4 separate regions of the Homo sapiens genome follow, and regions 2, 3 and 4 are each linked to region 1. The links come from fine-mapping of genetic effects on gene expression. A gene starts in region 1. Each other region holds a variant in brackets. All regions are shown on one strand. Distances are from middle to middle.

Region 1 (7,924 bases):
AAGCACCCCAACCACACTTTGGAAAATGCCTGTGTACAGAATTTAGCTAATGCCTAAGAAGCCCAGTCCAGAAGTCACTAAAGATGACTCTAAGGCTTACAGCCTGGAGTCTTTGTGTATCCAGTCTTGGATACACAGGCTAGGAATCATTCACAGGGACCAGACTAAAACCATAAGACTAGGTAAGATACTTCCTCAGAAACCATATTGAGACTATTCTTTCAAAACTTCTTTTGCCTTATCCCATCTCCAGCTTTACTATCTCCTGCTTCTTTCTAGCAAAAAATCTAGAAAAACATAAGGACATCAAGACTTAAAGGGTAGGAATAATAAAAATTAAACTGGAAAACTGCCTGACAAAAGATGGCACAATGCATGTGAAAATCATATTATGATCTATTATAACTACCTAATTTCTCCAAGAAAACTTTTTTGAATGGCAAACCTATGGATCATTTTTTCATTTTTTTGGATCATGAAGCTCTTTAAGAATGCAATGAATGCTATAACCCATCTCCACAGAAAAACACAAATACATACAACATTAAGCCTATTAATTTCAGAGCACTCCATGGGCCTCCTGAGGCCCAACTAAAGAGCTTCAGTTGCCAGCTCCTAGGTCCCTAGGTAACCCAAGCTGCAGGCACTTCATGACAGATAAAGCCTGCAGAGTTACACGACACTTACAAGATACGACTTTAGACAGTGCAGATAAAATGTATATATGCATTGGCCTGAAAAAAATAAAGATAACTTACTTACTAAGTAAAATTTGAGTCATTTAGTCAATACCAAAAGAAGAAGGGCATATGATGGTAATAATATCTCCACAACAAAACAGCTCTGAGAGGTTGATTTCACAAGGTCACATAGCTAATAAATCCCAGATTGTCCACATCCTTGTTCAGTGCTTTGGAACTAAACCACGCCACCTTAAGTACAATAAATATGTTATTACATTGAGTAGGAAAACATTTTCAAAATAAAAATCTCCACCAACCTTCCAAGAATGACTATAATCGGATCTCTTATTTATTTAATCCAATCATTCCATTTTTAGCACGTAAATGCTGACAAATTAAGGAACAAATTATATATATTGGCTTTTGAAAACAAAATGTACTTCTCTCTAGCACAATTAATTTGTATAAATAAGAAAAAACTAAAACAGCAAAACAAATAACAAAAAAATGTAACTTTATAGAATAAACTTGATTATAGACAAAAACATAAACAAGAGTTTGGCAGGCAGGGGTACATGATGTCAAGAACCACATGAAGTTTCTCTGCTTTGGTCACTGGTATTGGAAGAGTCTGGCAGGCAGGGACCAAGCATCTATTATCTGATATCCACTTGGCAGACTACATAAACAGTGAGACCTTGTGGCACAGCAGGAATTAGGTATTCCAACTACTACTTAAAGATCTACACTGACTCAGAGTGTGGCTACAACTCAAATGCTAAACTAAATGTGTGCCTCAGTTTCTCCACTGGAAATGTAATACATTATCTGCCCATCTCCTATCTTTAGAGAGGCAGCACTGCCAATTGGTTAAGAATACAGTCCCTAATTGGTTCAAATTTTGGCTTTGCCACCTACCAACTTTGGCAAGTTAATCTCCTTGTGCCTCAGTTTATTCAACTGCAAAATGGAGTTAACAATAGCACCTATCTCACAGGGTTGCTGTTAGGATTAATTAGAAAAATCTTATAGTGCCTGGCAAGTAACAAGCATTCCATAAACATCAGCTAGTATTATCATTATTTTAAACGAATGACAAGATTAACCAACTTAGTATACCTCTATTACACTTAGGAAATTACAGGCCCTAATTTTTTTTTGCTTTTTAATCATGTGGCTTAACTACTAACTGTTCTTTTTAATATAGCAAGTACACAGCCAATTAGTCCTGTAAAAAAATTCACTGTATACCCTGCCACCTAAAACGTATACATTCATCGAGTTTTAGTTAACTTTTCATCGCAATATAAGCGAACTCCCCCAACCAGTCATAAGTGACTTGCATCCATCCACTTCTACTTTCACAGTCATCACCATATTCCTTAACACCATTATTCTTACCTAGACTATCACAGTGGCCTCCCAACTGCTCCATTCCACTCTTCATGCTGTAGTAGGGAGCTCTTTTAAAAACCTAAATCTAATGTCACTCCTCTGCTTAAAAGCCTGCAATAGTTCCCCATTGTCCTAAACAAGTCCGATCTCCTAATGAGAACTAAGAGGCCTGCAAGATCTAGGGCCACCCTCCCGCTCTGGCTGCTCAGGCTATACAGGCCTTCTTTCACATCGGGCCTCAGAGCCTTCACATATCATGCTCCCCTATCTGGCGTAATCCCCTCTCCCCAGTACCCTAAGCAACGCCTAATCATCTCTGAGATCTCAGCTGAAAGGCGATGAGCGTCTGATACCCTAAACAGGATCAGGTCCTCCTATTACATGCTCTCATAACCCTGATCCTAATACTCTTTTCTGCATCACAAAATTAAACGGCAATAATTATTTAAATGGCTATTTAATACTGTCCTTGTCCAAAAAAATAGAAACACTTAGGAAGATTTGGAACCAAGTCTATCGTTTACTGCTACAACCCAAAGTGCTTACTTGCCAAGTATCTCATACATTGTAGGTGGGCTCAATATATCTATATTGCATAGTAGGAAAAGTGATGAGATCCACGATGGTGAAAAGTAGATCATCCAGAAAATCAGACTAAAGCAGAACACTGGCTGCACTGTATTAAATATGTAAGTTACCACAGGCATTACACTGAAGAGTAAAAACCTGCTTAAACATGGGCAAAATAAAGTTAAGACTGAACTTTCCAATGCAAAATTAAGTTTCTTTGTGCATCCTCAGGTGTTATGTGAAACTGGAGGAGTTCAACTTCAGTTACCAGTAAGAAGATACACAACTAAATCAAGACTGCTGCCACATTTGGCAACAACCTCCTCTCTTCTTGGCAGTAACTGTGAGGCCAAGAGTTGAGTTGGCCAGGGAAGAGTGATTTATCTTCCCACATTTAGAAGTGGTCCCTCTACAACAGGAATGCTGTACCGCTACTGGACTTTGAATTCTAACCTTGTCAAACCAGTACCTTCCCTAAGTATTCAAGTCACTTTTTAAAAAACAAGTTTAAATGGCATCGCAGTCCAATTCGACTTAGAGAAAACAAAGTTGCTCTTTCCAAAAAAAAAAAAAAGTCATTACTCTGGAAAATTAAAAGAAACTGACAGGGGGATGAATAAGGCGCTAAAGGCTGAGAGCTGTCGATGGAAGATGGAGGTCGCTCAGCATAGTATAATAACTACCACCGAGGCCTGGTGGGCAGCAGCTCCCAACCTAGAGCGGACGACCCCAGGTTGGCGTGAAGCAGGCAGGTTTGACAACACCAGACCCCTGCTGTCCGGTTCGTCGCGCTGACCCTGCCAACGCAACAAACGCCCAGACCTTCTCTGCACTATGGATGAGCAGTGTGGCCTGCTCTCGTTCTGCCCTTCCCTGGAAATGCGCGCAAGAAGGGAGGTGGCAAAAATCATGTCCACCGGGGGGGCTCAGGTAAGGGCTGGGGAGGTCTCGGGGTTAAACATTCGGCCCTTTGTTCACCAAGGCAGCAGAGCCCTTGGCGTCCGCAGCTCCTCCTCCCCGACTGCTCCCTGGCGCCAGCGTCTCCCGAGGACAGGCGGCAAGGGCTCGGACGCCCAGGCTTGGCTGCGGGTCGGGATCCCACGGCCTCGGCGGCGCGCGGCCCCTGCCTTTACCTTGTAGACGTCGCCGTAGGTGCCGCTGCCGATGCGCTGAATCAGCTCGAAGTCCTCCTGCGGGTTCCGGCGGGACAAATCGAAGCCGGGGTTCATGGCGGGCCCCAGGTGCCCCCCGCCTCCCTCCCGGGCAGGGGAGGGGGGCCGCTCAGGGGGCCACACGGAGAGAGGGCGCCGCGGCCGGCTCCCGGCTCCCCCGGCGGTCACAATCACCCGGCTCCACGCTGCGGCCGCCGCCGCCGCCGCCGCTCCCCTCACGCCGCTGCGGACGACGACAAGCGGCCAATCGTCCCCGCCCCCCGCGGCCCGCCGCCGCGCCGAACCTGGTCACACCCACAAGGAGAGGAGAACCCTCGCAGCCCCTCGCTCGGGGTGAAACTCCAACATGGCTTCCGCTTTCGCCGCTCCTCCCCCTCCCCTTACTCCGGCTCCTCCAACCTCCTCCCCTTTTCCCGACTCCCGCCCGACTGCGCAGCCGCGATCCCGGAGGGAGCGCGCCAGGCCTGGCGCGCACCCGACCCCTTGCGCGTTCCGGCTCCGCGCGCCTGCCAGGCCGGGGCCGGCGGCGGAACAGCTTGGGACCCGAAACGCCTCGGCTTTTCTGCGGACCCGCGCCCGGCCGCTGCCGCCGGACGCTTGAAAAGGTTTGCCTGGCCCAGGGACCGGGGTTAGGACTAGCAGAAAGTGGCTTCTTTTCGTTTCTGATTCCCCTAACGACAAAGTTGGACCTTGGTCTATCTGGTCCCAGTTCCAAGCAGGTAGCATAGTGGTAATATCCAAGACAGCCAATGTCCCAGCCTTTATTATTTTAGAAGCAGCTACATGTAGGATACCATGGAGTGCTGCAGCCTTTCTGGGATTGCGGGGAGGGGTCACTAAACACACCGTGAGGAAAACCCCCAGGAAAAGTGAGCTGTGCTTGCTTGCCCCTGTCACCGACACTCGGACCCTTGGAGTTGGCCTGCCAGGGTGCAAAGGAGGGCAGGCCAGGAGGGCCGCGAGGGAGGTGTGTGCAGTGGGCAGAGCGTGAAAGCTCCGGGAGGAAAACACGCGGAACAGCTGCCCACCATCCCGCGTGGGAGGCAGGCAGAGCGCAGAACTAAAGCAGTGATTGACCTCCCTCTTCGAAGAGGGTTGGATTATCAAAGACGGGCGGGGACTGCGCAGGCTGTCAAGCAACCCTGTAAAGAAGGGGTGGAGAGTGGACTAGATCTATTACCGCACCTGAAATATAAACACGTGACGATCCGGAAGCTCTTTAGCTGTGACCTTACCTACCCAAAAACCCCACCCTGCTTAAGACCCAGATTGCGCGTCTTACATCTGAGCTATGTGGACTCCAGCTCCGATTGTTAATACTTGCCCAAGAAAGCTTGAGGGTAATGGAAGGTTATTTTTCTGTTCTCATTGAACTTCCCAATAGACATTTGCAGGAGCTTTAATCAATTAGGTGATGGCCACTTTGGCAATACCACGTTGGAGTTTTGCTTCAGAAATGCTTTCCTAATCCCCTTAGGCACCACACCTTCTAACCACTAATATTCCCTAATACCTCGTGGCTCCTGAGAAACTAGGTCTCATCAAACCTGTTAAGGATAAGTATAATAAATTAATAGTAGAGCAAACTACTTAGAGTTAACTGCTTCATACTTTTTCAAAAAATCTTTTGAATCCTTTTGCTCATAGGAAAATTGCATATGTACTAAATTCTCAAATTGTTTACTTTGAGTATCTGTTGACTAAATTGATGTTTGAAAATGGTTATCTCTTCACCTATATAAGTAGCCTTTCAGTTGTGTAATTTTTAATTATTAAATTTTAAAGCATCAGTAATATGAAAGTATCACTTAAATTATTGCCTTAGGAGTGCATATCATTGAATATCTTCTCGATGGATCTACCTTCAGGCTCTGGTATCTTGAGAAACTCCTGACTATAAATGTTATTCCATAGCCAAAGGTCTTGCTTTTGCTTGTTTAAGGTACTTGCCCAGGACCCAGATTACAGGCCTTCCTTCAGTTTGTCCACATTTGGAGAATTGTTTGGCATGTTTAGGCCAAGCGCAAGAATAATTAGCCAAGGATTCAGATAAGCAGACCTGACAAATTATCCCAAATGGAAGCCAGGTCTGCTCTTTTCCTCTGCCTTTTTTTTTTTTTTTTTTTTGAGAAGGAGTTTCGCTCTAGTTGTCCAGGCTTGAGTGCAAGGGTGCAATCTCAGCTCACTGAAACCTCTGCCTCCCGGGTTCTTAGCGATTCTCCTGCCTCAGCCTCCCAAGTAGCTGGGATCACAGGCATGCAACACCACACCCAGCTAATTTTTGTATTTTTAGTAGAGATGGGATTTCTCCTTGTTGGTCAGGCTGCTCTTGAACTCCCGACCTCAGATGATCCGCCTGCCTCGGCCTCCTGAAGTGGTGGGATTACAGGCATGAGCCACTGCACCCGGCCTCTGCCTTTTTAGTGCCAGAAAGCCAAATTCTCAGGACTGAAAGCTGCACAAGAAAGTTCTAATGACTTCAGTGTTTTGTTTGCTGAGATTATCGTCTGTCCAAATAACTTTGCATTTGCATCACTAATAGACTGCTTTCAAAAGGAAAAGACATTTCAGTAGGGCTAGAACAGTCTTTAAAGTTTTGTCTGTTCCATTTTGGCAGGGCCAAGCTAGTCCTTTTGAGAAGAGATGAATTTCCATGTAAGGGCCTGATTTGCCATGTGGGTTACAACATAAGTAAAACAACTGCTCACAAAGAAAATATTTTGTTTTTTGTAATATATGCATGTGGCCAATTCCAGTGCCTTTTCCCCCTGTTCTAACAATCCTCAGTTTTGCTAGAAGTAACACTAATGATCACACTTTCCTAGAATCAGAGAAAGAGCTTCCCTCTTCTATGATTAGAAGCATTCTTAGAAGTCATCTAATCTTTTTAACTCAGGAACTGCTTCTACAGCATCTCTGCTGGATTTGCTGCTGCTTGAATACTTTCAATAAAAGGTGACTCATTGCTTCCCAAAACAACCCACCTCGTTGTGATACAGTGCTAGTAAATGATCATAATAACTAGGAGAAAAGTAGTAATTTCTAACATTGCTAAGTGCTTACAAGATACCAGGAATGGAGCCAAGTATTTTTCATGTGTTATTTCATTTAATTCGCACAACAACCTAATGACATAGGTAATATTATCTCCATTTTATGAGGCACAGACAGATTAAACTGCTCAAGGTAACACAGAAGGCTGAAATTTGAACAAAGGCAGTATGACACCAAGGCTAGATTCTTAGCCACTAGTCTATACTCTGCTTATATACAATATACTGTAAAAAATTTCTCTTATGGTAAGCCAACCTCTACCTCCCTGTAATGTATTTAGAGGCAATGATTATTAGATTCTGGTGGTATTGAATACAGAAAAGAAAAGCCACAATGCCTTCCCTCAAGGAGTTGACAGTCTCATAAATAGTGTGAGAAGCACAGAGAAGGGACATTAATGCAGACGGGAGGAAGATTTAGGAATGACCCCTTGGCTGGGCGCAGTGGCTCATGCCTGTAATCCCAACACTTTGGGAGGCCGAGGCGGGTGGATCACCTGAGGTCAGGAGTTCAAGACCAGCCTGGCCAACATGGTGAAACCCCATCTCTACTAAAAATACAAAAATTAGCTGGGCGCGGTGGCACGTCCCCTGTAATCACAGCTACTCGGGAGGCTGAGGCAGGAGAATCACTTGAGCCGGGAGGTGGAGGTTGCAGTGAGCTGAGACTGCACCATTGCACTCCAGCCTGGGCAACAGAGGAAGCGTCCGTCTCAAAAAAAAAAAAAAAAAAAAAAAAAGGAATAACCCTAAAGCTGAACCTTGAAAAATGCATAGGCAGACAAGGGAAAGTGGTGCATGACAGGCTGGCTGCTTAGCGCCTTGAAGCACCTACCCGTTTAAGCATCACACAGCAAGGAACACAAGAAGGCCAAGATAGGCAGCAGTCCCCACCTGCCAGCATGTCCAGGCCATCCTTCTATTGCCCCATCCCCCATGGGTTTCTGGCTTAGGAACCCCTTGATCCCCTGCACAGGCTCCCAATTTCATCCTCGACCTCTTGTCTGACAACTCACTGGAGCCCCTTCTTTGGCCTATTAACCTCAGCCCT
Region 2 (7,924 bases), 35 kb after region 1:
ATGATTGCCTGACTACTCTGAGGGCCCAGGTGAGCTGGAGGCACGTAGCAGTGAATGGTTGAGAGTAGATTTTGATAATCAGAGCCAAAGTGAGGACTCACTACAATAGAGGAGACAAACTAGTTTCAGAAAGAAAAGGCATCTAGGCTCTTTTCAGAAGAGGCTTGTATAAGTGAAAAATAGAAAAACATCCTTCTATGAGTCATCATTCTCATTTTCATCAGCTCCCTGGGCCTGCTTATTTTCCTTTGATGTTTACAAAGGGACATGTGATTACATAAGGGAAGGGTAAAGGGTATAATAAACCAGGGTTGTAAGAGAAGGACCAACAGAAGGAAGAGACTTGAAACCCAGCTGGGAGCAGACAGGGGAAAGGGCTTCCTTGAATTGTCTTCATGGTTTTGTGAGAGGTGTGTGAACCAGAGCAACTCCATCTTGAATAGGAGCTGGGTAAAATGAGGCTGAGACCTACTGGGCTGCATTCCCAGACGGTTAAGGCATTCTAAGTCACAGGATAAGACAGAAGGTCGGCACAAGATACAGGTCATAAAGACCTTTCTGATAAAACAGTTGCAGTAAAGAAGCCGGCTAAAACTCACCAAAACCAAAATGGCGTCAAGAGTGACCTCTGGTTGTCCTTACTACTACACTCCCACTAGCGTCATGACAGTTTACAAATGCCATGGCAATGTCTGGAAGTTACCTTGTATGGTCTAAAAAGGGGAGGCATGAATAATTCATCCCTTGTTTAGCATAATACGCCCCTTGTTTAGCATATCATAAAAATGGGCAACCAGCGGCCCTCAGGGCTGCTCTGTCCATGGAGTAGCCATTCTTTTATTCCTCTACTTTCTTAATAAATTTGCTTTTGCTCTGCACTGTGGACTTGCCCTGAATTCTCTCTTGCGCAAGATCCAAGAACCCTCTCTTGGGGTCTGGATCAGGACCGCTTTCCTGTAACAGTCCCCAGGCACAGAAACTCTGAGGGAATCAGACACTTAGTTGTCTTTATTGCTCCCTCTTCAGTATATAGAACAGAGCCTGGCACACCTAGGTGCAAAATAAATATTTCTTGCATGAAAGAAGTCCACAGTGCAGTCACTGGCTTTTTTAGATGGTTAGCTCACTAGAATTTCATTTTTTTTTTCTCCTCCTCCTTTACAAAAAGTTTTCAGACAGACTTTGGGCCTGCTGGGGCATTTTCAAAAGACAAATAGTCCTGCTGCTGCTCCAGAGGACCCACCGCCCACCTCCCAGTCAGAACTATGTCTCTCTGTTCTTGTTGGAAAGGGGGACACAGCTTGCTTTGCAAGAAACTTGCATAGGAAATGGTGCAATCTGGGCTGTTTTTCATCTTCTTTCAACCTAATTTCCTAAGTTAAAAGAAAGAGAAATTTAAGGAATCTTAGGAATATGAAACTTCTCTGGAATGATCTTTACTGAGCTGTGTTTGGAATCAGCTGAAATCCTGAAGGACTGTCAAGCCAGCCAAGAATAAAAGAAAATAAAAAATAACTTAAACAATCCTAGCCAAAATCTGAAAATGATATCTAGAGCAGCTGCTATTTTTTTCTTTCCCAGAATGGTTTGCCTTTCCCCCAGTTTGTAATTGTTATAGGATTGTTTTAGGTTATTTTGGAGTAGAAAAGAAGAAAGAAGGAAGGAATCGAGTGTTTTGGAAGTAGTATGATGCGGTTAGTTCTACCTTTTAAGCTTTATAATTTACACAGCTGTTGTACACATGTGAACTCCCTCTCATTAGGATGCTGCTGACTGGTACAGGAAGTTTTTATTCATGGCATTCTCCTTAGGAGTTTGTTTATGGCATTTAGGTCCTCTCCTGCCTTCCCTCCCCACCCCCACCCCAAATCAATCTATATTTGTAATTTATGGATGATCTCTCCAGGGCTTAATCTGTGGGGTAAAAGGCTGTCTTATCTGCTCTACATTTACTGAAAAAGGGTGCAAGAAAAACCGTATCTAGCTGGCCAGATGGGTAGGGAACACTTGGTTGCACTAAAAATTTTCCAGCAATGGTATCCCCAGCTTGCCCTTTTGCCCGAATAGTGCACAAAGTCAGCAAGCATTTCCCCTGAAGTGTCCACCTCCACACGGCCAAGACTGGCTTGGCTGGTTACCAGAGGCACTGAGAAGATTGAGGAGGCAGCTTATAGAATACTTTGCTTGCATCCTCGTTCTCATCCCATTGTGAGGTAACTGCCCCACAACTGAGCTAGATAAGAGAAAGGAACTGAAACTGATTTGCCCAAGGTCAGTCTGGGTGGATATTGAGCCTAGAATAAAGCACAGAATAGCTGCACCTGGGGCTGGCCCAGGGCATGCTCAGATGAATCACTGGCTTCACCAGAAATGCAGCTAGTCTGGAATGCAGTGCAGGGGCCCAGATGCCTGACACTGAACAGTAACTTAGAAAGGGGAAGGTCTTTTCCTACACATAGTGAAGCTTCAAGGAATCTTTAAGAAAATCACATAAGAAAGATGAATAAAAACTTTTTCTTCCTCCTACTCCTTCAACCCCTATTTCAGGTTCTTCCTTAGAGCAAACACTGATTTCAAGTTGGAGTGTGTCTTTTCATCTTTTTAGTTATTTATATATCTTTATTGATCTATCTGTGTACATACATCTGCATCTACATATGTGTGTATATGTATCTATCTATCTATCTATCTATCTATCTATCTATCTATCTATGTATCTATCTATCTATCTATATCTATACACAGACAGAGAGAGAGCCAGTGAGGGAATTTTGCTTTGTTTTGTTTTGACTGAAATGGTATCACACAGTGGATTGTTCTTCAACTTTGCTTTTTTTTTTTTTTTTAAGTTTAGCCATATCTCTCAGAGATTTTTCTGTGTCAGTACATTTTAGTTTTTTTCAACTGCTGCATGCTCTCACATAAGTCAGATGCATCACTAAGTGTCAGTCTTTCGATGATCATTTAGGTTGCTATGCTATCAGTTTTTACCACTATAAATAGTACTATAGTGAAACAACCTTGTACCTGCTTCCTTTTTGCACATATGCAAGTATCTCTCTACAGTGGATACCAAGGTGTGAGATTGCTGGGTCAAATGATAGGCGCATCCAAAGTGTGAAGGATTGCTGCCAATGTGTACTCCAAAAAGGTTGGCCAGTTTATATTCCCAGGAATACGGTAAGAGAATGTCTGTTTTTCCAGATGCTTCCCAACACATCAGTCTTTCTTATTTATTGTCAATCCAATGTATAAAAAATAGCATCCTCTTCTTTTTGTTTCCCCCCAAAACCAGTAAGACTGAGCATCTTTTCAGATGCTCGTTTGCCATTCATGTTCCTTCTTTGTGAATTGCTTATTTATGTTCTTTGCCCATTTTTCAATTTTGTCTTTTTTCTGGGGACATATAAAGGCAAGTCCTTTGCTACATACATTACAATACTTTCACCCAGTCTCTCCTTTGGATTTGAATCTCATTTTGTTGAACAGATGTAAAGTTTTGATATAGTAAAATTTATTAATCCTCTTCTTTATGACTTTGGTATTTTTTGTATTGTTTCAGGAGGCCTTTTCTACCCATGGTCATAAACATGGTCTCACTGCAATTCTGGGAAATACAAAATTTTTAAATGAAGTATTTTTATGGTGGTCCAACCCCCCATCATCTGTTTGTCTGAATTACTGCAATAGCCTCTTAACTAGTCTCCCTGCTTCCTTCATCGCTTCCTTATAGTCTGTTCTCAACACAACAGCCAGGGTGATTCTTACAAAACAGTCAAATCATGCCATTTCTCTGAATCAAATCCTCCAATAGCTTTTCATGTCACTTCAAGCCAAAGTTATGACAACGGTGCCACATGCATCCTCTGCACACCATGACCTTTTTCACCTCATTACCTACTACTCTTTTCCAGTTCTTGACACATACTAAGTTCTCAATAAATATTGGTAGAATTCATAAATAAATTTTATCCCCATTCATTTCGGGTAAAAAGTATTGAAAATGTTGGCATTGATATGGGGAAGCTCCCATACACTGCTGGTAGCAGTGTAAATTTGTACAAACCTTTACAATTTATAAATACTTGAGGATGAGCAGATCCTTCCCCTAGGCAATGCTCCTTCTAAGTATACACTCTAGAGAGGTTATTTTATGTGTGCATAAAGAGACTGTAGGAAAATACTTATTATAGCCTTGCTTTTAATGGTAGATGGGAGGAAGGAAACAAAGAATGAATGAATGAAGAAATGGTCAGAGGACAATTTATCCTAATAAAATATATACAAAATTTACTAACTCATGAATGAATGTTTACTTTTGTAGAATGTCTTTTTTAAAAAATTCCATAGAGGGTTTTTTTTGTGTGTTTTTCTGTATGTAGGCAATATTATGAACAAATATATAGATATTTTCTGATGTCAAAACATTCTTATATTCTTGGGGTAAATTCTATTTGGTTATGAGGTATTTTTATTTTTTAAAATACATTCTTGAATTTAATTGACTAGGATTTTATTTAGAATTTATCTTTTCCTAAGGTTTCTAATTAGAGATATAGGGTCTTTTATTTTTTTCTTTCTTTCTTTCTTT[C/CT]TTTTTTTTTTTTTTTAAGTGAAAGCAGTTTGTTAAGAAAGTAAGGAATAAAAGGATGGCTACTCCAGCCGGGCGTGGTGGCTCACACCTGTAATCCCAACACTTCCCAACACTTTGGGAGGCCGAAGCAGGCGGATCACGAGGTCAGGAGATCGAGACCATCCTGGCCAACATTGTGAAACTCTGTCTCTACTAAAAATGCAAAAATTAGCTGGGTGTGGTGGCACATGCCTGTAATCCCAGCTACTCGGGAGGCTGAGGCAGAAGAATCACTTGAACCAGGGAGTCACAGGTTGCAGTGAGCCGAGATCACACCACTGCACTCCAGCCTGGTGACAGAGTGAGACTGCGTCTCAAAAAAATAAAAATAAAAATAAAAAATAAAATAAAATGGAATGGTTACTCCATAGACAGAGCAGCCTATAGGATCTTTTCAATTCAGTTTATAAGTGAGTTTGGTATGTAATATTTTTACTGCCATTTGTTTTGGGTGTTAGGGCTACCCTAGAATCATAGAGTGAATTGGATAGTACCTCCTTTCTTTCCAATTTTACAAAGTAGTTCCTGTATGATAGCTACTATTTCTTAATTGAAAGCTTGATAAAACTCATTTGTAAAAAAACATTTGAGGCCAGGCTCGGTGGCTCACGCCTATAATCCCAGCACTTTGGGAGGCCAACGCAGGCAGATCACCCGAGGTCGGGAGTTCGAGACCAGCCTGACCAACATGGAGAAACCCCGTCTCTACGAAAAATACAAAATTAGCCAGGAGTGGTGGTGCATGCCTGTAATCCCAGCTACTTGGGAGGCTGAGGCAGGAGAATCGCTTGAACCTGGCAGGTGGAGGTTGCAGTGAACCGAGATCGGGCCATTGCACTCCAGCCTGGGCAACAAGAGTAAAACTCCATCTGAAAAAAAAAACAAAAACACTTGGGCCTGATATTTATTGATAAGTAATAATTTTGATTGATTGTTGTTTGATCTATTACTGATTTTTTTAAATCTATTCAGGCTCCCTATTTCTTCTTGAGTTTATTTTGATAATTTGTATTTGTTTAAAAACATTTCTACTAAATCCATGTATACAAGTTTATTAGCATGAGGTTGAAAAATAACATTTTCTTTCTTTCTTTCTTTCTTTTTTTCCGAGATGGAGTCTTGCTCTGTCGCCCAGGCTGGAGTGCAGTGGCGCGATCTCGGCTCACTGCAACATCCACCTCCCAGATTCAAGCAATTCTCCTGTCTCAGTCTCCTGAGTAGCTTGGATTACAGATGCTTGCCACCACAACCATCTAATTTTTGTATTTTTAGTAGATACGAGGTTTCACCATGTTGGCCAGGCTGATCTCGAACTGGCTGGTCTCAAACTCCTGACCGTGTGATTTACCTGCTTCGGCCTCCCAAAGTGGTGAGATTACAGGTGTGAGCCACCGTGCCCAGCAATATTTTCTGAAGAATTAAAAAGCTTGTATTTGTAGCCAGGCACGGTGGCTCATGCCTGTAAAACCCAGAACTTTGGGAGGCTGAGGTGGGTAGATTGCTTGAGCCCAGGAGTTTGAGACCAGCTTGGGCAACATGGCAAAACCTCCTCTCTACAAAAAATACAAAAATTAGCCGGATGTGCTGGCACATACCTGTAGTCCCAGCTACTCAGGAAGCTGAGCTGAGGAGGATCGCCTGAGCCTGGAAGGTTGAGGCTGCAGTGAGCCTAGATGATGGCACTGCACTCTAACCTAGAAGACAGAGTGAGACCCTGTCTCAAAAAAAAAAAAAAAAAAAGTTGTATTTATAAATTTTACTTGAATTGTTTATATTACCTTTTCTTTCCTAATATTTTTGTGCCTTCTCTTGTCTTTTTGATCAGCCTTAATAGAAGTGTGTCAATTTAATTAGTTTTTTCAAAGTACAGTGGTCCCTTGGTATTTGTGGGGGATTGGTTCCAGGACACACTTGCATACCAAAATCCAAGGATGCTCAAGTCCTTGATGTAAAATGCCATACTATTTGCATATAGCCTGCACAATTCTCCTGTATGCTTCAAATTTTCTCTAGGTTACATAAAATACCTAATATGATATAAATGCTATGTAAATAGTTGTTATGCTATATTGTTTTTATTTGCATATTTATTGTTGTATTGTTATTTTTTATTTTTCAGAATATTTTCTGTCTACAATTGGTTGAATCTGTGGATGTGGAAACTGCAGATACAGATGGAGAGCCGACTATACTAGCTTTTTGTTTCATTTTTCACTTCTGGTGTGTGTGTGTGTGTGTGTGTGTGTGTGTGTGTGTGTGTATCTGTGTGTGTGTTTTATTAATCTCTGTGCCTGCATGTTAGTTTCTTCCTCTTTATTTGGATTTTCACTAACATTCTTTTCAGCTTCTTCAGTTGGATACTTGTTGCCAATATATTTTTTTTCATTCTAAGAATTAAATAAATGGGCCAGGCGTGGTGGCTCATGCCTGTAATCCCAGCACTTTGGGAGGCCAAGATGGGTGGATCACAAGGTCAGGTGTTTGAGACCAGCTTGGCCAAAGCTGGTGAAACTCCATCTCTACTAAAAATACAAAAATTAGCTGGGCATGGTGGTGCGCGTCTATAATCCCAGCTACTCAGGAAGCTGAGGCAGGAGAATCACTTGCACCCAAGAAGTGGAGGTTGCAGTGAGCCAAGATTGCGCCATTGCACCCCAGCCTGGGCAACACAGCGAGACTCCATCTGAAAAAAAAAAAAAAGAATAAATGAATGTATTAATCACCAAACTGCTCTTCATCAGAAACTCTTAGCAGTGGTATGTTGAGGTCTCCCTGCCTACCGTATATGTCTCTTAACTCTGCGGGTGCAATATTTTGTCATGGGTCAGTTTAGCAATATTGTACTATTTCCCAATTTTCTAAGTGTGTTCATTTCAGAGTTTATCCTATTCATTGTTCTTTCTTTCTTTTAAAAATTTCTATGACTGAGCTGGACATGGTAGCTCACACCTGTAATCCTAGCACTTTGGGAGGCTGAGGAGAGTGGATCACCTGAGGTCAGGAGTTCCAAACCAGCCTGGCCAACATAGTGAAACCCTGTGTCTACTAAAAATACAAAAAATTAGCTGGCCATGGTGGCAGGCGCCTGTAATCCCGGCTACTAGGGAGGCTGAGGCAGGAGAATCTCTTGAATCCATGAGGCGGAGGTTGCGGTGAGCCAAGATCATGCCATTGCACTCCAGCCTGGGCACCAAGAGTGAAACTCTGTCTCAAAACAAAAAAAAACTTTTCTATGACTGTATTTTTAATTCTCAGGATTTTAATTTGTTATTCTTCATAATCATAGCTATTTTA
Region 3 (7,924 bases), 57 kb after region 1:
AGACAGGAGAATTGTTTGAACCTGGGAGGCGGAGGTTGCAGTGAGCTGAGATTGGGTCACTGCACTCCAGCCTGGGCAAGAGAGTGAAACGCTGCCTCACAAAAAAAAAAAAAAAAAAAAAAAAAGATGCTACCTTTAGTGTCACTGCTTCTGTGAAGCCTTCCAAAAATTGCCTTTTTTTCAATTACTTTCTCCTTTTGACCTCCATTCTCTCTACCTCTGTTATATGATATTGTGCATTATATTTGCTGTGGTTTGTTTATATCTCTCTCAGCAGGCTGAATGTGTTTTGAAGGTGGAGTTCATGTCTTATTCGTATCCCCAGGGTGTGGTGTGCAGTTGGTGGTTAAGTCTGAGGAATGAATGAATGGCCCAAATCACCGAAGATCTTTCAGAGGTGGCAGTGGGGTTTCTTTTTTTCTTTTCGAGATGGAGTCTTACTCTGTCATCCAGGCTGGAGTGCAGTGGCACAATCTCAGCTCACCGCAACCTCTGCCACCCAGGTTCAAGTGATTCTCCTGCCTCAGCCTCCCGAGTAGCTGGGATTGCAGGCACGCACCACCACGTCTGGCTAATTTTTTTATTTTTGGTAGAGATGGGGTTTCACCATGTTGGCCAGGCTAGTCTTGAACTCCTGACCTCAAGTGAACTACCTGCCTCAGCCTCCCAAAGTGCTGGGATTACAGGCGTGAGCCACTGTGCCCACTGGCAGTGGGTTTCTGATGATAGGATAGTTTCATGAAAGTTAGCTTAAAGTACAAAAAACTTTTTTTTTTTCTTTTTTTGAGACAGTCTCATGCTCTGTCCTCCAGGCTGGAGTTCAGTGATCTTGGCTTACTGCAACCTCTGCCTCCTGGGTTCACGCCATTCTCCTGCCTCAGCCTCCTGAGTGGCTGGGACTACAGGTGTGCACCACCACGCCTGGCTAATTTTTTGTATTTTTAGTAGAGACAGGGTTTCACCATGTTAGCCAGGATGGCCTCGATCTCCTGACCTCGTGATCTGCCCGCCTCGGCCTCCCAAAGTGCTGGGATTACAGGCATGAGCCACCGTGCCCAGTGAAAAAGCTTTGATCCTTTGTCTTCAATTGCACCTATGAAAAGGAAGTTTCGTATAAAAGCTGATATAAATGGCTAATAAAGCAGAGAAATAGCTTAAAATTTGACTGTAGACATTTGCTATGTATGATTAATATGTATCAGTTTACAGTTAATTTTAGGAAAACTTAAATTTTATAAATTGCCAAGAAATCACCCATGAAAAACTAATTTTCACTTAGCGGTTTAATTTTTTAACATTAGGATTTTTAAGTTTCGCTAGTCTTATCATCTGGGACACTGGAATTTTGTCTTGTTGGAATTGCTGATTAAACAAAATAATTCTTCAAAAGTGCTTAGCACAATGTTAGGTAAATAGTAAGCACTAAGTAAACATTGGCTTTATTATTATTAGGTGGTCCTATACTATGATTCCTCCTATTTATATCACGTGTGTCTTGCTGCATATTTAAGGACGCTCCCATCTATATGTTTGGACTAGTGCAATAGTAAAGCTGCCAGCTCAGGTGAAGAAAACCATTTAAAAATTTAAAGTTAAGCACATGATGGAAAATTCTTGAATATGTGGTGAGTTAGGTATAAAAAATATAGGGGGATTGTATTGTTGAATACAAAAAAGCCATTAGACTATTTTAAGAATGCTCTCTTCTGTCATTAGGGCTTGGTTATGAATAGTATATCACATGCATGAAAGGAGGTGGTGGCTAGTTTCATTTCCCTAAAACATGTTTCAATGGTAAATTAGAGGCAGCTGTGGTTTACTGACGCATAAACCCAGTGAGGTCTATGATAACTAGTATATATTTACAGTTTGACTCATGGTGCCTGTCAGGCTTTAATCATAGGGGAAGAAGTGATAGTACTTAGACTTCACTGTTTAATCTTCCGTTCATTTGTTTTCCAAGTTTGTTTCAGTCTGTGGGCAGGTTCCCTTTTGATTGCAACATGCAGTCCCTATTTCTGCAGTTTATCTTCATTTGCCATTTTGAGAGGGCTATGAAAGTCCTATGATAAGCTCCTTGTTCTCCAAATCCATGCATATAAGTCTCATCGAGTTGGATGCATTCTAAAGACATTTTGAAATCACATCAACACTTTCAGATCAGCAAGTTATTTCTTAATAAATTACTGTCTTAATGTTAGATGCTATTTTAAAAACACGAAAGAGAGCAGTTTCCAAATATGTGTTACTACTTCCAGGGAATTGTAAACTGGAGTGTTTAATTAAAAGAAGGCCCTAAATTTTTATTATGCTGTCACTGGATATTTGAATAACTAGCTGTAAATGAGTTCTAGTTGTACAAAAGTGATTTTCTAAATCCAGTTGTCCCTATTTCAAAATATAGTTCTAGTTCCTGGGTGAAACTGAAAATGAAATGGCCATGTCTTTATAACTAAAACAAATTAGAGGGTTGCAGCAATAAAATGAACCCACAGAGGGGAAAAAAACCCTTTGAATCAGGTTTTTATTTTCTTCTCCTGAACTGATTGGGTAATTTACTCAACTAATTTTGTCTAGTCATTAGGAAGTTAATACTCCATTCTATAATTTCCTTCCACTCAAGTGAGCAATACTGGTGCATATAATTTGGATTAAGAACATTCCTCTACTCTTACAAATATTTGGATATATGCCTTGAATATGCTTCCTCATTTAGGCCACAGAAATTTATTCAAAGACAAATCAATCAAAGATAATAACATTAACTACTATTTATTAAGCATCTCCTTCATGACAAGACTTTTTCCCATATTGAGATATAATTGACAATTGAAAATTGTACATATTTAAAGTGTACAACATGATGATTTGATATGCATATATATCCATGCATATATATCCATATCCATATCCATGCATATATATGGATATATATGCATATATATGCATATCAAATCATGTCGTACACTTTAAATATGTACATATTTCAATTATGCATATATATGCATATATCCATATCAAATCATATATATATAATATGCATATATATCATATACATATCCATCACCTCACATAGTTACCATTTTCTTTTGTTCTCTCTCTCTTTCTTCCTTCCTTTCTTTCCCTTCTTTTTTATTTTTTGGTGGTGAGAACACTTAAGATCCACCCTCTTAGCAAATTTCAAGTATATAATATAGTGTTGCTAATTGTAGTCACATCGTTGTAGAATACATCTCCAGAATTCATTCATTTGGATAACTGAAACTCTGTAACCCTTTTCCAATATCTCCCCATTCCTCTATCCCTCCAGCTCATGGCAACCAACATTCCACTCTCTGCTGTTCTAAGTTTGACTACTTTAGTTTTTACATATAAGTGAAATCAACACAGTATTTGTTTTTCTGTGTCTCGCTTAGTTTACTTAGCTTAATGTTCTTCAGGTTCATTCATGTTGTAAATGACAGGATTTCCTTTTGTTTTGAAGGCTGCATAATATTCTGTTGTATATGTATACCATATTTTCTTCATCCATTCATCTGTTGATGGACATTTAGGTTGTTTTCATATCTTGGCTATCATGAATAATGCTGCAATGAACGTAAGAGTAGAGATATCTCTTAGAAATCCTGATTTTCCTTTTTTTTTTCAGACAGTCTTGTCACCCAGGCTGAAGTGCAGTGGCATGATCTCGGCTCACTGCAACCTCCGCTTCTTGGGTTCAAGTGATTCTCCTGCCTCAACCTCTGGAGTAACTGGGATTATAGGCATATGTCACCATGCCCGGCTAATTTTCTTATTTTTAATAGAGATGGGGTTTCATCATGTTGGCCAGGCTGGTCTGGAACTCCTGACCTCAGGTGATC[T/C]GCCCGCCTCGGCCTCCCACAGTGCTGGGATTACAGGTGTGAGCCACCGTGCCTGGCCTATTTGATCATCTTTTACAGCTTAGGGAATTAAGGTTTAGATGTGGCACAGGACAGAAACATACTTTGAAGATAGGTCTGTTTGACTTCAAAACCTGTGCTCTTTGCCAGGTGCAGTGGCTCACGCCTGTAATCACAGCACTTTGCAAGGCCAAGGCAGGAGGATCACTTGAGGTCAGGAGTTTGAGACCAGCCTGGCCAATATGGCAAAACCCTGTTTCTATTAAAAATGCAAATATTAGCCAGTCATGGTGGTGTGCTCCTGTAATCCCAGCTACTTGGGAGGCTGAGGCACGAGAATCACCTGAATCCCGGAGGTGGAGGTTGCAGTGAGCTGAGATCGTGCCACTGCACTCCAGCCTGGGTGACAGAGTGATAGTCTATCTCAAAAAAAAAAAAAAAAACAAAAAACAAAAAACCCCCACAAAACCCACAAAACCAAACCAAAAAACCTGTGCTCCTTACTGTGCTCTCCTGCCTCTCAGTGCGAGATAAACAGAGTGGGCAAAATAGCCTATGATGTCATCATCCGCAAGGCCTGTTGCTACTGTGTGATGCCTGCTCCCTAGATGACCTCCTGGGGGGGTGAAGCGAGAGGAAATCTGGCACCAAGCTGGTTGAGGGGCAGAGCGAGAATGTCTGGGCTTCCCCCACCCAGCTTGGAATGTGAGTGATGCAAATCATCTCATCGAAGGCTCAACTGCAGCCAGGAGACTCCTCCAGTGATGATGAGAGTGTACAAATGAAGTGCAGGAGCGGGGGAGCCTTCACACACCTCCAGCCCTTCCTGCTTCTTGAAATACTCATATCCTCTGGCAGAGACTAGCTACAGAAATCCATGTCCACTTACTCACAGCCTGAAAGAAACCCACACAGTGGACCAGGAAGGTTGTTGCATGGTAATTAGAGCTACTATTGAATTTCTATTGTGCATCTTCTCAATTAGGCACAATTACCACATATAAGAAATGAGGAAATTAAGACTCAGAGGAATTAGGTGAATTGCCCAAGGTTATTACATAGCTTATACCTGGCCAACCAGGGTTTAAACATTGTTCTATATCCTAATCCAAGACCCATGTTCCTCTCACTACTCAGGTTTATTTCTTTCGCACAGGGATATTACAAAGTCATTATATTTCCTGATTATATTTTTGCTGCTGCTGTATGACCATCTCGTTTCTTGTCACTGACTTTATCCAAAAGCAAGAACATGGTATGGAATTTTGGGGGAAGCAGTTGAAATGAAGTGTTGGAATTTCAGAGCTTGCATTACTGGATTATGTGTGGATTGTTGTTTGTACTGCCTCTTTCTTCCTCCTGCTACCTCATATAGGTGCTTGATATCTGATTATTACAGTCTTTTTAGGGGTTCTTGAACATACTCACTTGTAGAAAAGTGCTGGTTAAAATCATAACAGGCAGACATTTGGGTTCTTATAGCCTTGCAATAAATGGAAGGAAGTAACTTTTGGGCTTATGAAAATGTATACTGCAAGGTTTTTCTTTCTTTCTTTCTTTCTTTCTTTCTTTCTTTCTTTCTTTCTTTCTTTCTTTCTTTTTCTTCCTTCCTTCCTTCTTCCTTCCTTCCTTTCTTCCTTTCTTCCTTCCTTCCTTCCTTTCTTCCTTTCTTCCCTTCTTTCTTTCTTTCTTGAGACAGGGTCTCGCTCCATCACCCAGGCTGGAGTGCTCACTGCAAGGATCCTCCTGCCTCAGCCTCCCAAGTAGCTAGGACTACAGGCATAGCCACCATGCCTGGCTAACTTTTCTTATTTTTTGTTTTATGTAGAGACAGTATCTTGCTGTGTTGCCTAGGCTGGTCTCAAACTCCTGGCTTCAAGGGATGCCCCCACCTTGGTCTTCCAAAATTCTGAGATTATAGGCACGACCCACCATGCCCAGTGGTTTTCTTAAAGTTCTCTGCAAGGTGTAGATAGTTTCATGAGTAAGATGATTAGTCAGTACAGTAGCAACATTAGGTAATTGGTTTTGCCATTTCGAGCTTGTAGCAAATTATCCATTCTTATATGACAAAGCCTATGGGACAACTGGAGGACTTGAACTGTTTCTCTTCAGTGCCCGTAAAGAAGGGACTGAAGCTTCATAAATCTAGTCCTTCACTCTCCTAGCTCTGATCCTGTCCTTTCTGTAAGTAATGATCATATTGCCTTCAGTAGGTGTTTGTCAAGTCTGTATTTTGTTTTAGAGACAGGAGCTCGCTTTGCTGCCCAGGCTGGACTCGAACTCCTGGGCTCACTTTATCCTCCTGCCTCAGCCTCTCTGAGTAGCTGGGACTACAAGCACTGCCATGGAGACCAATTTGTCAAGCATTTTAATACCATCTCATCACTGTAATGATCAACACATGTGATCTAAAAATCTTTTACATGGCAGTGGAAAGGGCTTGAGCCATCTCCGTATTAAAACCCAGGTGGTATCCTCATCCTTTAATCTTGAAATGTTGAAAGAGTTGATTAGCTGTCCTTGCTAGCTATCTCTAGGAAGGATAGCTAATAACTGTTTTGCTTTTGCTTTTGTGTGTGTGTGTGTATATATATTTATATGTATATATGTGTGTATATATATACAAAAGCAAAAGCAAGACAGTATTTGAAATTTGAAGACATTGATTCTCATAACCAGTCTATTTCAGGATTAAATCACATAACCACCAATCTCTGCCAACCCACTTTCCAGTAACCACCCCACCTCCAATTTCCTGTAAATAGCAAACACTCTGTAGTATTTCATCTACAGGGAGCACTGTTGAGTAGCTGGAGTAGTAACAGTATTTGCTTATTTTTTTACTTGAGAAGGCTTTTTGTTTGTTTTGAGATTGGTGTGTGTTGGGGGGGTCTCACTATGTTGCCCAAGCTGGATTTGAACCTCTGAGCTCAAACCTCCTGCCTCAGCCTCTTGAGTAACTGGGACTACAGATGCGTCACCACGTCTGGCTACTTGAGAAGTTTTACAATTTTTATGTTTTAAAAGCAGGAAAAGAAAAAAATCTAGGACTTGTCTCTGTCATAACATCATCCATAAAAAGTGATTTTAAGATGAAGATTTCTCCTAGAGAGATACAAGCTGGTGGATCTAGCATTCAGCTCTCACTTTCATTCAATATAGTTGTCATTTTAGACCCAAGCTTTCCCTAGAGATAGTGATTCCACCAGGGGAAGCAATATGTGAAGTTATTGCAAGAAACTTTTTGTGTGAAATTGTGACTGCTGCCAGAGATGTCATATGTTTTAGTTAACTTTCTTCCCAGGAACCAAGAAAATTTCCCAAGCCCCAGATAAATACAGCTGGAATGCTATTCAGAAGTCAGTAGCATGGGGCTGAAGAGAGAGACTGAATTTTACACACTCCATTTGTTTCTGGTTGAGATAAACCCTCTGTTCTATTTTGCTTACGGTAAAAATCCAATTCACTTTGAAAGTTGTAAAGCCCAAAGAACTCAAACAAATTTACAAGAAACAAACAACCCCATCAACAAGTGGCCGAAGGATATGAACAGACACGTCTCAGAAGAAGGCATTTATGGAGCCAACAGACACATGAAAAAATGCTCATCATCACTGGCCATCAGAGAAATGCAAATCAAAACCACAATGAGATACCATCTCACACCAGTTAGAATGGCGATCATTAATAAGTCAGGAAACAATAGGTGCTGGAGAGGATGTGGAGAAATAGGAACACTTTTACACTGTTGGTGGGACTGTAAACTAGTTCGACCATTGTGGAAGACAGTGTGGCGATTCCTCAGGGATCTAGAACTAGAAATTCCATTTGACCCAGCCATCCCATTACTGGGTATATACCCAAATGACTATAAATCATGCTGCTATAAAGACACATGCACACTCATGTTTATTGCAGCACTACTCACAATAGCAAAGACTTGGAACCAACCCAAATGTCCATCAATGATAGACTGGATTAAGAAAATGTGGCACATATACACCATGGAATACTATGCAGCCATAAAAAAGGATGAGTTA
Region 4 (7,924 bases), 36 kb before region 1:
TGACAACTTTTCATCAATTTAAAAACTTGAAATTTCAAGTCAAAATAAAGAAATGATTCTTTTTAAACTTGCTGAGGTTCATCATGCTACATATCTAAACCAGTAAAAATGGATAGTGTAATGTCTCTCAACCAAGACTTTGGTACTAAAAAAAAATCCTATATAGTACTCACCAACTCCATAAAATGTGCTTTAAAACAATATTAAGAATTAGTGACTACAAACATAAGAGAATTCAGTAAGATAGTAACCTATGAAAAGAATATACAAAGATCAATAATCTTCATATATACAACATATTATAATACAAACAACAGCAAAAATAAAGACTTCATTTCCAATAGCAACTAAATATTTGTATATTTTCACTTAATCACAAATGTGCAAACTTAAAGAAAACTTCAAAAACCTTTAAAGAAATGAAAGTAGAATTGAATGAAGAGAAAGTTATAATCATATTCTTAGAGAGGCTAAACATCATAAAGGTATCAACTCTTCTTAAGATATTAAAATTCATACAAACCCAATAAAAGTATCAATTTTTTTCCTCCAGGAACTAGAAAGGCTGATTCTAAAGATCTTATTGAAAAATAAACAAGCAGTAATTGCCAGGAAAACTCTGAAAATGAAGAGCAATGAGAAAACAGCTCTAACAATATAACTTTATATGGCCTCAAGAACTAAAAGTATACGAGTGGCAAATGAATAGACAGACCAGTGGGACAAAATACAAAGTCCGGAAATACACCCATATAAAGAATTCTTAGAAACAGAGGAGATAATCCAATGAAAAAATGGACAAGTATGTGAAAAAGAAAAGAAATACAAATGGCCCTTGAATATATGATAAGCTGAAAACAGAAATGCAAACAAAAAATATACAGTGAGATAGTGTTTCTTATCAGATTGGCAAAATCTGATTTAAGTCCAACCACTTGTCAAGCTGTAGGGAAAGGGGGGGCATTCCAAGGACCCTCATATATTGCTGCTGAAATGCAAAATGCAAGATATATATACAGGGAATCCAATAATATCAATCAAAATTACAGACGCATGTACCCTTTCACCTAGCAAACACCCTTCTAGGAAACGAAACCATCACGAAACCTACATACATAAGAAATACACATGTACAAGCTTAATCAGTATGAAATTGCCTGTTAATAGCAAAAGACTGAACAAATTCAAGTGCAAAAGGACTGGCTGAATTAACTACAGCATATACCAACAAACGAATACTATATAGTAAAAAAAGAAAAAAAAAGATAAGGAAGGTCTTTATATACTGACTGATATAACGAGAGAGCTCCATGGAATAAAAATAAAGAAACCAGGGTGCAAAGTATTAGTGTGAATTAGCCTTTTGCATAAAGTCTAAAGGAATAAACAGAAATTAACAAAAATTAATAAAAATACAGTTAGTAATACATAAAATGAACTAAGGAGAAGGGACAGATGGGGATGGGTGGGAAACAAGACTTCTCAGGGGATACTTTTTAAAATAGCACTTTGCATTTTGAAACGTAAATAAACGCATTCTTTATTAAAATTATAAATTAAATTTGAAATAAAAAGATAAGAAATTGGTGGCATGGTTAATATTTGGCCCCAAAAATTTACTAAGCCATGGTGTAAGCCTTTCCTTTGATGGTTTCAGGAATAATTAAAATAATAATAATAATAATAATAATAATAATAATGATGATGATAATAATTGGCCAGGCATTGGCTCATGCCTATAATCCCAGCACTTTGGGAGGCTGAGGTGGGTGGATCACTTGAGGTCAAGAGTTCAAGACCAGCCTGGCCAACATGGCGAAACCCTGTCACTACCAAAAAATATGAAAATTAGCCAGGTGTGGTGGTGCACACCTATAGCTCCAGCTACTCGGGAGGCTGAGGCAGGAGAATCGCTTGAACCCAGGAGGTGGAAGCTGCAGTGAGCTGAGATCATGCCATTGCACTCCAGCCTGAGACAAAGCAAGACTCTGTCTCGTTAAAAAAAAAAAAAAAAAAAAGAATTCTGTGAAACATAAACATCAGAAATGCAATCACACTTATCAACCTGCTCACACGAAATTCCCAATCTATCAATTAAAACTAAAGAACGTACTATGCTTTGAAAACGTATGTTGTACTATGTAACAAAAAGCCACATTGTTTACCTTGTTCAAGCTATAGTTGTAATTTATATGTCACTAAGAAGCCTGCAAGAAGAGTACCACTTGTGACAGGCAGTGAATACTTCAGATGACACAGACAAGGTTTTTAATAACAGCCAGTTCAGTGCAGGTCAGGCTAGGATTATGCTAAAACTGGTAGGCTTAAGGTAGTGCGCAGCAGCCTTCAATCCAGTCAAAGAATGAAAGCCTCAGAGGAAAGGCCATTTCCAATATACATCACATCTCTTTAACAAAATAAAAACACATGGGAACCATCTCATTTCCATCTTTGAGGTGACCTGGAGTTTTGTTCAAGCCAAGAGGAAGACAAAAGTCTACATGTAGCACCTCAGTCACATAAATGAGTACAGCTGATTTTCAAGTATTTTAGGAACTTAAGTAGTTAAATGCAAGGATTTGAGGCGATATTTTAGTGAAGACTGCCTAGCTACCTAGCAGCAGGGTCAGACAAGCCTGGCAATGACTTTTAGAGAATCAGAATCTAAGTCACAGCCATATCACTCAGAGAAATCTGAGTTCTTACACAGAAACTATGCCAAAAAGTTAAGGGCTCCTGTTACAAGCATACATTTTAGTGTTTATTACAAGAGACTGCTGTAAGTAGGATCTTTGTTCTCATATCTAACTAAGATCTAGCCAGGTACATAATATTTATATGGGGGAGGGTTTAATGTGGTTTAAAAAGAGGATATTTTATATTTCTGGAAACATTTAAAGGCATGCTCACAAAAAGAAAAACAAGTTGGTAAGTTTATAAGACAATTTCCCC[A/T]GACTTCAGTAAGCTCAAAGCTCAGACCCATATAACCAACTAGACAATGCTACCGACATCCATGTACCTCAAATTAATCCCCCCAAAAACCCTGCTATACTTTAGGTGTAGTGATACCACCCAACATCTCGCAACTGCCCAAGGGAGAACGCTATAACCCAACACCTTAACCCTCCCCATCCCTCCATTCACAGAATTATAAATGTCTGTTGTATGTTTTTAACTTCTCTGTTTCTATTACTAGTGCCCTAGAGTTCAGGCCACCATAATCTCTTCTCTGGAATACTACAGTCTCCAGTCTTGACTCTACCATCCTTGCATCGAAGCTTTCACATTTATTAGCATAAGTTGCTCATAATATTTTAAAGTACTGCTAAATTAGTAGGTATGCTCTTTATATTTGCAACAATAATTAACAAATAATATTTATGCCTTCTCTTTTATTTCTTGGGTGTTCTTACCAGGTTTTTCTTTTTTACATATCTTGTCAAATGTTGAGCTTAGGTTTTATTGTTCCCCCCTCTCTTTCTTCCCCTTCATTTAGTTCCTGTTCCTCCTTATTATTTACATTTCCAGTGCCTATGAGTTTACTCTGCTCTTTTTTTAATTCCTTGGTGTTCATATCTAATCATTTTATTTTTTATTTTTTAATAAGTGAATTTATTATTATAAATTATGACTGGAAGTCCTGCTTTATTTATATCTATAGCTTTAATTGTTTTTCATCAAAATAGATATTGTATAATTTTCACTGTAATTTCCTCTTTAACTAATGAGTAATACAGTAATTTTCAGCTTCCAAAAGAAAGGTATATGGCCAAAATACAGTAGCAGAAAGCAGCTATACCCTTTCACCTAAAAGAAAAGCTTTAAAAATGAACAAAACATATAACACTTAGTCTTTAGACATGAAATATCGGTTAGTTCTGAGACAGGAGTGTGACCCTGTCTCAGAAAAAACAAATAAATACAAGAATCACTGTAGTGTGCTACAGTGATTCCTTAAAAAAGAAAAATAAAATCCTACAGAGTTTTACAATTGTCCCGGCTTATATTCTAGAGACAGTTTCCAGGCCTCAGTGCAGGGCAAGGGAACCCAGATGGAGCCTGATGGTCACCCTAAGTTGAGATGATGAAGCTAAGAATACAGGAAAATGAAGAAAGCTAGAATTCGTAGGACAGAGTACCAAAACAGAGACAACTATACAGACAGGAAGGGGAGGGGGGTGTCCCATCTTCATCTCAAAATTTCAGCTCAATACCAATCCCCATATCCTTGTGAGGAAACACACAAGGCCTAGAGCAGAGTCACCAGAAAGGAAGAGAGAGAACAATTACCAAAGATTTCTAAGGGTTGGGAATAGTTCATGCTCTCATCGGCCAGACTGGAAAACTTCATAATTTAAGAGACACCAGGTAGAATACTCAGAAGAATACTGTCTTAGTATTGGGGAAAATTAGCTGTAGGCTACCAGCTGCTCTGTTCCCACCTAACTGAGCTTCGAAATAATACCTGCAAGGCCAGGCGCTGTGGTTCATGCCTGTAATCCTAGCACTTTGGGAGGCCCAGGCAAGTGGAGCGCTTGAGCTGAGGAGTTTGAGACCAGCCTGGGTGACACGGCGAAACCCATCTCTACAAGAAAATACAAAAAAAAAGCCAGGCATGGTGGCCCGTGCCTGTAGTCTCAGCTGCTTGGGGAGCTTAGGTGGGCATTTCGCTTGAGCAGGAGAGGTTGAGGCTACAGTGAGCCAAGATGGCAATACTGCACTCCGGCCTGGATGACAGGAGTGTGACCCTGTCTCAGAAAAAACAAATAAATACAAGAATCTGTTTCTGAAGTAATTTCACTGCACCACAGAAAAAAGCCCTAGAATACTAACAGGAATACAAAAATATCCAGGGCACAAAGTAGAATTCACAATGTCTGAAATACAATAGAAATTAATAATCATGTAAAAAAGTAAGAAAATACAACCTATAAGGTAAGAAGAAAAATCAATAAAACAGATTCAAAAACAGAATTAGTAGAAACATTAAACTAGCTATGATAACTACATTACATATGTGCAAGAAGTGAAGACTAAGCCAGTTAAATAGAAACACGGACTACGAAAAAAACCCAAATCATATTAATACATGAAAACTAAAATAACTGAGATTAAACTACAATGGATAGAATAAGAGCAGATCAGACACCAGAAAAGATTAGTGAACTTGAAGAAAACGGTAATAGAAACTACAGTCTTTTCTCTGTCTGGAAAAAATGAACAGAGAGCATCAGTTAGTTGTGGGATAACTTCAAGTAGACTAAGAAACAGGTAAAGAGCAAAATTTTTTTGATTAATTGCCAAATTTTTTCCAGTTTTGAAGAAAACCATAAACCTACACCTCCAAGAACCTTCATGAACTCCCAGCAAGAGAAATGAGCAGAAAGCTACATTAAGACATATCATAATCAAATTGCTTATAAAGAGAAATATATCAAAATTTGTGATACACAGCTAAAAGAAACACAGCAACAAATGCTCGTAAAAGGAAAAAAAGAAAGGAAACAGGAAATCAGTGACTTCAGCTTCCTCCTTAAGAAACTAAAGTAAAGCAAATGGCCAATGAACCTCAAGTAAGCAGAAGAAAGAAAATAAGATCAGAGTGTACCTCAATTAAATAGAAAATAAAAACAATACAGAAAAATCCATTAAACCAAAAATTGGGTCTTTGAGAAAAATCAATAAAATTAAGGCTCTGTTACCTCTAAGAAGATAAACTTCTAGCCAAACCAATCAGAAAAAAAGACAGGCCAAAAAGAAAAAAGAAAGAAAAAAAAAAGGGAGAAGACACAAATTTACCAATGTTGGGAAGTAGAGACATGACATCACTACAGATTGTACACATATTAAAAGGATAATGAGAAAATATTATAAATAATTTTATGCCATTAAATTTCAACTTGGATGAAATGAATACATTCTTTGAAAGACACAAACTACCAAATCTCATTAAAGAAATAAACTAAATAGCCCTATATTTCTAAAAGAAACTCAATCTATAGTTTAAAATGCCCAATAATAAAGCCTCCAAACCCAGATGGCTTTGCTGATAAATTCCACCAAACACAGAAGGAAGAAAATATTTTACAGAAACTCTTTCAGAAAAATGAAAAGAATACTTCTCAAGATAGGGGCAGAGCAAGAGGGCCGAACAGGACTCCACCCACTGACACCCAGCAGGAACACCAAATTTAGCAACTATCTACACACAAAAAAGCACCTTTATAAGAACCAAAACTCAGGTGTGCACTCAAAGTACCTGGTTTTAACTTCATATCACTGAAAGAGGCACTGAAGATGTCTGAAAGAGGCACTGAAGATATCACTGAAAGAGGCACTGAAGGAAAGGCAATCTTGAATTGCCAACGTCCCCCATCCACCCACAGTGGCAGTGTGGCGCAGAGAATGTGTGTGCTTGAGGGATGGAAAGCACAGTGATTGTGAGACTTTGCATTGAACTCAGCTGACACCCGACCATGGAGGGAGTATTTAGATCAGCCCTAGCCAGAAGGGAAGTGCCTGTCCCAACAGTCAGAACTTGAGTTCTGGCAAGCCTCCCCACCATGGGATGAAGTACTCTGCAGCCCTCAATAAACCTGAAAGGCAGTCTAGGCCACAAGGACTGCAACTCTTAGGCAAAGTCGTAGGGCTGAGTGGGGCTTGGAGCCAGTGGACTTGGGGGGCATGCAAGCTATTATGACACCAGCCAGGGCAGCTAAGGGAGTGCTTGTGCCACCCCTCCCCTAACCCCAGCTAGTGACTCTAAAAAAGATCCCTGTCTTCTGCTTGAGGAGAGAAGGAAGAGTGAAGAGGACTCTAACCTGCATCTTGGATACCAGCTCAGCCACACTAGGATATAAGACCAGTTAGGATCGTGAAGCACCCATTCCAGGCCCTAGCTCCCAGATAATATTCTAGACACACCCTGGGCCAGAAAGGAACCAGCTGCCTTGAAGGGAAGAACCCAGTTCAGGCAGGATCCAGTATCTGCTGACTAAAGAGCCCTTGGGCCCTGAATAACCAGCAGCAAAACCCAGGTAGTATGCTGTGAGTCCTGGGTGAAACTCTGACATGTGCTGGCTTCAAGTGAAAACCAGCGCATGCCCAGTTGTGGTAGCTACAGTGAAAGACTCCTGCTTGAGAAAAGCAGAGAGAAGAGTAAAGGGGACTTGGTCTTTCACCTTAGGTACCAGCTCAGCCACAGTGGGGTAGAGCACCAAGTGGACTCTTGGAGTCCCTGATTCTAGGCCTTGGCTCTTGGACAGCATTTCTGGACCTGCACTGGGGCAGAAAGGAGCCCACTGCCCTGAATGGTGAGTCCTAGGTCTGGCAGCACTCACCACAAGCTGACTGAAGAACCCTCAGGTCTTAAGTGAACATCAGCGGTAGCCTGACAGTACTCCCCATGGGCCTGTAGTGGTGGTGGCCAATGCGTGAGGCTCCTCTGCCTGTGGAAAGGGGAGGAAGGACTGGGAAAGACCACGCTTCATGGTTTGAGTACCAGCTCAGCCACAGTAAAATAAAACACCAGGAAGATTTCTGAGGTTTCTTTTTTTTTTCTTCTTTCTTTCTTTTTTTTTTTTTTTTTTTTTGAGGTGGAGTTTTGCTCTTATTGCCCAGGCTGGAGTGCAACGGCACGATCTCGGCTGACCACAACCTCTGCCTTCTGGGTTCAAGCGATTCTCCTGCCTCAGCTTCCTGAGTAGCTGGGATTATAGGCTTGCACGACCACACCTGGCTAATTTTATACTTTTAGCAGAGACGGGGTTTCTCCATGTTGGTCAGGCTGGTCTCGAACTCCCAACCTCAGGGGATCCGCCCGCCTTGGCCTCCCAAAGTGCTGGGATTACAGGCTTGAGCCACCACACCCAGCCGATTTCTGAGGTTTCTAACTCCAGTCCCTGGCTCCCAGATGGCATCTCTG

Direction of the effects. Positions count from the first base shown, and alleles are read on the strand shown. Sizes are in standard deviations (SD) of each study's normalised expression. Not every link is listed here.
For the expression in lymphoblastoid cells of the gene that starts at base 4,175 in region 1, allele CT in region 2 goes with a higher level than allele C (moderate effect, 0.60 SD a copy in TwinsUK).
As copies of T replace C in region 3, the expression in lymphoblastoid cells of the gene that starts at base 4,175 in region 1 goes down (small effect, 0.34 SD a copy in GEUVADIS).

Evidence for each region.
Region 2: its variant is fine-mapped to the expression of MAP4K3 in lymphoblastoid cells (TwinsUK, PIP 0.90).
Region 3: its variant is fine-mapped to the expression of MAP4K3 in lymphoblastoid cells (GEUVADIS, PIP 0.95).
Region 4: its variant is fine-mapped to the expression of MAP4K3 in whole blood (TOPMed, PIP 0.99).

What each region holds. Positions count from the first base shown.
Region 1 is chr2:39,433,111-39,441,034 of GRCh38, forward strand. It overlaps MAP4K3 (mitogen-activated protein kinase kinase kinase kinase 3), which reads right to left and starts at 4,175. Exons shown (of 34, transcript NM_003618.4): 1 at 3,782-4,175. The coding sequence starts at 3,877. It overlaps MAP4K3-DT (MAP4K3 divergent transcript), which reads left to right and starts at 4,306. Exons shown (of 6, transcript NR_037875.1): 1 at 4,306-4,425. RefSeq lists an enhancer at 3,369-3,448 and silencers at 3,779-4,138, 4,209-4,428.
Region 2 is chr2:39,467,778-39,475,701 of GRCh38, forward strand. All of the region lies in intron 3 of MAP4K3-DT (MAP4K3 divergent transcript), which reads left to right. Among named protein-coding and RNA genes, the nearest start is that of MAP4K3-DT, 34 kb to the left of the region's middle. RefSeq lists an enhancer at 1,730-2,230 and a silencer at 3,083-3,132. The variant C/CT (reference allele first, on the strand shown) is at 4,592.
Region 3 is chr2:39,490,461-39,498,384 of GRCh38, forward strand. All of the region lies in intron 3 of MAP4K3-DT (MAP4K3 divergent transcript), which reads left to right. Among named protein-coding and RNA genes, the nearest start is that of MAP4K3-DT, 57 kb to the left of the region's middle. The variant T/C (reference allele first, on the strand shown) is at 3,864.
Region 4 is chr2:39,397,047-39,404,970 of GRCh38, forward strand. All of the region lies in intron 1 of MAP4K3 (mitogen-activated protein kinase kinase kinase kinase 3), which reads right to left. Among named protein-coding and RNA genes, the nearest start is that of MAP4K3, 36 kb to the right of the region's middle. The variant A/T (reference allele first, on the strand shown) is at 2,953.